2 separate regions of the Homo sapiens genome follow, and region 1 is linked to region 2. The links come from fine-mapping of genetic effects on gene expression. Tissue or cell type: whole blood. Region 2 holds a variant in brackets; the other region holds the start of a gene. All regions are shown on one strand. Distances are from middle to middle.

Region 1 (2,678 bases), 120 kb after region 2:
AGGGGACAGGCCTCGGGCTCGGAATCCCGGGGTTCTGCAGGGCTGCAGGGAGCTCCCTCGCAGAGACCTGAGCCCCCGGCAAGAGTCCAGGCAGCGGTGCCCTGGGTGAATGCAGAGGCTCATCTGCGGGCCTCAGTGGCCCTTTTGAAAACGCCAGCAACAGAGGAGTCCTCGACGCTGTCCCCACAAAAATGTGCCAAGCAAGCCTCAGGGTGGGTGTGGGGGACTCCCCTCAAAAAACGCTGATTTTAAAAACAAAAGACAGGCTCGTGGCCATTCTCAGAGGCGACCACGTTACTCCCAGGGCTGGAAAGCAGATTTGTGGAGGCCAAAGACGAGACAAAAGGCACGAGCTGGCGACAAACTGATCTGGAAAGGATTTTTCTTTTTTTTTTTTTTTTTTTTGGTGAGCGATGAGGGCCTCCCAGTTCAATTCTTTCTTCCCTTACAGAGAAGACTCATGGGCCGCTGAGCAAATCCCTTATGGTCTGGAAGAGACGTCAGATAGGCAGGGGGAGAGAACCCCCCAAACTTTCCCAAACTGCGGCAGGCTAGTGGCTAGTGGCGGCAGCGGACCTCGGGGCCCCGGGACACAGGGGGCACCCCGGGGCGTCAGCCACCCCCTCCCGCCACAACAAAAGGCCCCAGCGCAGCCCAGGAGCTGGGACTTCCCAGACCCGAGCCCGGCGTGGGGAGCCGGGAGCGCGATCGGGCGGCGCGCCCTGGGCGGCCCCTCTGTCCGCGGCGACATGGGAGACAGAGCCGCGTGTCCGAGGCGCGGCATAAAGGGGACCCCCGGGCGCATCCAGACGAGCCCCCGCCGCAGCGGCGACAGCAGCTGGAGCTGCCCGCGCCCCCGCCCGACCCAGCCCCCGATCCCCGGCCCCCGAAGCCTCCGCCCGGGTCACCCCGCGTCGCCGGCCCGCGCCGCCCCCTCGGGAGCGCGTTGCGGGTGCTGCAGGCCCGGAGGCTCCCGATGCGGCTCGGGCTGCGTCGCCACCACGCGGCCCGGGACCCTCCCGCCGCCGCCGCCGCCGCCGCCGCCTCCGCGCCAGGCCCGGCGCGACACAAAGCCCCCGGCCCCGCCGCCGCCCACTGACCTTGGGCTCCGGCGCCGGGCTCCCGCAGCGTCTTGGTCACCGCCTTCCAGACGTGGCAGCCCAGCAGGCACAGCAGCAGCGTCGCGGACCTGCTCATCTCCGCCGCGGGGCCGGCGGCGGCTCGGGCTCGCCGAGAGCGGGCCGGGCGGCGGCGCGTCACGGGCGGCCGGGCGCCGCGCCCCCCTCCATGTCGCTGGCTCCGCGCGCCGGGCCCGCCGCCCGATTGGCCCGGCCCCGCCGCCCCGGCCGCTCCCTCCCGCGCCCCGCGCCGGGTTTCCCCGAAGAGCCGCGGCGGCGGCGGCGGCGGCGGCTGCTGCTGCTCCGCCAGCTCCTTAACCCCTTCCTGCCTCGCCCGCCGCCGCCGCCGCTGCCCGCGCCCAGGCCCCGGGCCCGTGGTGCCACCTGGCGGCTGCGGCGCCGAGGGCGCCCCCGCCCGGCGCCGCTGCGTCGCGCCCCCAGCCCGACCCCCGGCGACACTGCCCCGGCGCGCCCCATCCCCGCAGCCCCGCAGAAGAGCCAGACCTGCCTTTCAGGGCGGAGCCCTTTTCATCACACCAGGTCACCCAAGGGGCCGCAGGAGACATTGTATCTGGGTGTGACCCCCCCACCAGGTGCCATCCTAATGTAGTTGTGTCCCCCAACGTAGATTTCACACCCAGTGTTAAAGATCCGCAAAAACACTCCCCAAGCCAGTATAGACTGCAGTAGGCCTGCAGTACCTACGTGTTGGCGGGTGGACAGCTTCAGGAGGAATGGTACTTGGATGGTTCTAGGGGTTAGGGTGGGGAGGAAATCCACATCTTTTGAGGCCCTAGGTGCTTTAAAACTTTCTGTCCTATTAAAGAAAAAAGACTATTCCATGACACGTGTGAAAGCACAGCAAAGAAGACCCTCTTTGGAACCATCGCAATAGGTATAAGCCCTACCATGGGATTCTGCAGTCGGGGAGAAAGGTTGGGTTCAACTCTGAATACAGCAGGAACAAGTGGGGATTTATAACCGAGGACCAGGGTGGGATGCAGGGAATGAAAAATTATAAGAGGAAACATCAGGGGGAAGGGGGATTCTTGAAAGTCAGACATCCCCTGGCAGGGCTGGGCAGGACAGGGCGGATGGGGAAGCTGATCAGATATCCAGGGTGGAGGGTTCTTGGTAAACTGACTTAGCAGGGTTCTTCCTGAAAGCAGATTTTACAAGGAAGGGCACAACTGAGCCTAGAAGAAGGTTCCGGAGCCTGACTGTAGTTCGGTCAAGCAGAGACTCTTTGTCCATCTTCACAATACATGATCTAAGAGGTAGTTAGCATTATCCCCCCCATTCACAGATGAGAAAAGAGGCTAAAGAGGGTTAAGGAATTTGTCCAAAAGTGCATACCTGGTCAGTGGCAGAGCCAAAATTCTAATAAAACAGTCAGTCTGACCCCAAAATTGAAACTCTTCACAAAAACCTCCAGACTTGGCTGGGTGTGATGGTTCATGCCTATAATCCCAACACTTTGGGAGGCTGAGGTAGGTGGATGGCCTGAGTTCAGGAGTTAAGAGACCAGCTGGGCCAACATGGTGAAACCCTGTCTCTACC
Region 2 (2,678 bases):
GCCTGGCCACTCTATGCCCAGTTGAGGACAGAGAGAGCAAGTGCAGAGAAAGAAACGATGTGGGAAAGAGCTGGGTGGACACAGATGGCAGAGGGCGGAGGCTCCCCATCCTAAGTGGTCCCCATGCCGGTGGGGCATGGAGCCAAGGTATGCCTGTCTCTGAGTTGGACCAAGCACCACCTCTTCCCCTCCTGGCTGCAGCATAGGTGGGTGGGGTGGTAAGTCTCTACCAGCCCCACCCACCCACAGGCTACCCTCTCAAATGGGGGCTCGTGGGACGAGGCAGAGGGCAGCTGGGCCAAAAACCCTAAGTCTAATCTTATACTTAAAAAAATTGCAATTTCAATAAGAATTTCTCTGAATTGAATATATTTAGTCCACCAAAGGAGAGCTCAGAGAAGGTGCTTAAGGCAACTGGTAACAGAAGAAAAGCTCAAGGAGACCAATGTGCTAACATGTAATTCTGCAGGGCTCGTACCGACGTAACACAGTTTCAAAGCACTTGAACTTGTACCAAGAATTCCCCTTCTGCACCTTCAGTGCCTTTCTCCCACATAGTGCTAAAACTCCCAATCATACCTAAAATCCACATGTAAAGACTAAAACACAGTAACTCCCACTGAAAAGAGAAAAGACTCCAATTACCTGTTCCATTTCCGTCTAATCCTCGCAAATAAGGAAAACTGTCCACCTCCGAAGGGGAGCTGGCGGCCGTGAGAAACGCGGTCAGGTCACTGTAGCTGGTGTTCTCAGGCAACCTCAGAGCCCTTCTCTGGAAATGAACGCGAGGCTGTGGCCGGGCACCTGCAGAGATTAACCTCCGAGTTATCTCCCCCAGGAGCAGTTTCTGTTTTTAGAAAATGCAAAACCAGGAAGTGCCTCTCTAAGGTTTCAGCACGCCTCCCCCACCCTGCTCCCTCTCACAAGGCCTCCCTTCCCCCATTCATGCAGGACACAGAGATGTGACAACATGCTATTATGGGGAGAGAAATAATAGCCCATTGTCACATTTGTTTTGACACAGGATGTTATTTAGGTTTTTAACAAAAAGCTTTTTCCAAGTTCCA[T/C]GTGCAAGCAGTCTTGTCACTGCCCAGCATTTGCCTGTGGATCTGGGTAGCATTTTGGGAAACTCCATGTAAATGAAACAAGTAGATGACTATTAATCTCTTTACTCAAACAATGTAAGAGATACTCTTTGATACCGCTGCAAACCCGTCTTTAATCTCCCTGGAAAAATCTGGTTTAATGCCATGAACCAAATTGAAGGAGGGCAAGGGAATTAACAGTGCAACCTTGAAAAGAATTGCAAACAATACCCCAGCGGCAATGAATCTTCTCTTTCTGTGGGAGCTGCCATTTGTCATCATCCAGTCTATTCTGGAGGCGTGCTTCCTACTTGTGATGGATTATGTCACAGAATTTAGGATGAGACTTTTGAAATGATGCAAAATGATGCTTCTTCACCAAACTCAACTCCTTTGTGTAGGAGGACAGGTTGGGCTGACAGGCCCTAGACAGTTGGTTGTGCCGTCCTCTGCAGCTTAACTTTGCTCCAAATTTTCTTTTTCTTTTCTTCTTCTTTTTTTTTTTTGAGATGGAGTTTTGCTCTTGTCGCCCAGGCTGGAGTGCAGCGGTGTGATCTCAACTCCCTGCAACCTCTGCCTCCCGTTCAAGCGATTCCCCTGCCTCAGTCTCCCAAGTAGCTGGGATTACAGGTGCCCGCCACCACACCCAGCTAATTTTTGTATTTTTAGTAGAGGCAGGGTTTCACCATGTTGGCCAGGCTGGTCTTGAACTCCTGACCTCAGGTGATCCACCCGCCTCAGCCTCCCAAAGTGTTGGGATTACAGGTGTGAGCCACCGCGCCTGGCCCAGATGTTGTTTTGATCATAAAACCTGAACTGGTTTTTACCTAATGCTGCGGTGATATTCACCAGACGTAAAGGTGCTAGGTAATTTTGTGCAAACCTGGCAAAAGCATTGTTAAGAGAAAAACTGTAGATCCAACCCCAGGCTTGAGGCAGACCACATTCCACCTGTGCTTTGCTGAGGGTTCCTTCTCCCGGCCCCCTGCTGTCCTGCTTCAACAGCTCTGCACGGAGCTGGTGGGCTTTATCTCCACTCCAGGGTTCCTTTTAACTCTGGATCAAAGAACTTGTAAGGAGTGAAGAAGCCTGTCTAGACGTGTTCTAGAAAAAGGGAGTTTTAGAGCTCCAAGAATCCACTAGCCCAAGTCTCTCTTCTTAAAGGTGAAGTCACTGAGGTCCAAAGGACTTATGTCGGGGGCAGCCTGTCTTGGCTACACACTGCCTAACTGGCAGGGAGTCACAATGCTCCCTCTTCCTTTTAAAAACTAGCAGGTAGACTTCTCCAGGGGCTGGTTCTCCACTCTGTGAAATCCAGGCCCAGGTTTAGAGCCCAGCGAGCAGGTGCCCAAAATCATGAGAGTCCTATCTAACTCCGGTCATCTCTGCTGAAACTAAACAGACACAGACATTAGTCTAGCTCCAGACCATCGATTCCCCTTCTTCATCCCTAAAACAAACCCACAGCGACACACCAGCCTCTGGGGATCTGGGTATTTTAACATTATTGTATTCTTCTTAGTCTGGTCTTATTTTCCCTCGATGTTACAGAATACCGATGTCTTACTCCTGCCACCTCCTTGGTCTGTGGAG

The links. PIP is the estimated chance that this variant, and not a neighbour inherited with it, causes the effect.
Region 1: FAM171A1 starts here. The variant in region 2 is fine-mapped to the expression of FAM171A1 in whole blood (TOPMed, PIP above 0.99). The same link has a PIP of 0.9 or more in blood mononuclear cells and tibial nerve.

The regions. Positions count from the first base shown.
Region 1 is chr10:15,369,856-15,372,533 of GRCh38, forward strand. It overlaps FAM171A1 (family with sequence similarity 171 member A1), which reads right to left and starts at 1,434. Exons shown (of 8, transcript NM_001010924.2): 1 at 1,101-1,434. The coding sequence starts at 1,197. RefSeq lists silencers at 1,191-1,420, 1,431-1,480.
Region 2 is chr10:15,254,076-15,256,753 of GRCh38, forward strand. It overlaps FAM171A1 (family with sequence similarity 171 member A1), which reads right to left. Exons shown (of 8, transcript NM_001010924.2): 4 at 646-804. Among named protein-coding and RNA genes, the nearest start is that of FAM171A1-AS1, 47 kb to the left of the region's middle. RefSeq lists an enhancer at 1,639-2,282. The variant T/C (reference allele first, on the strand shown) is at 1,068.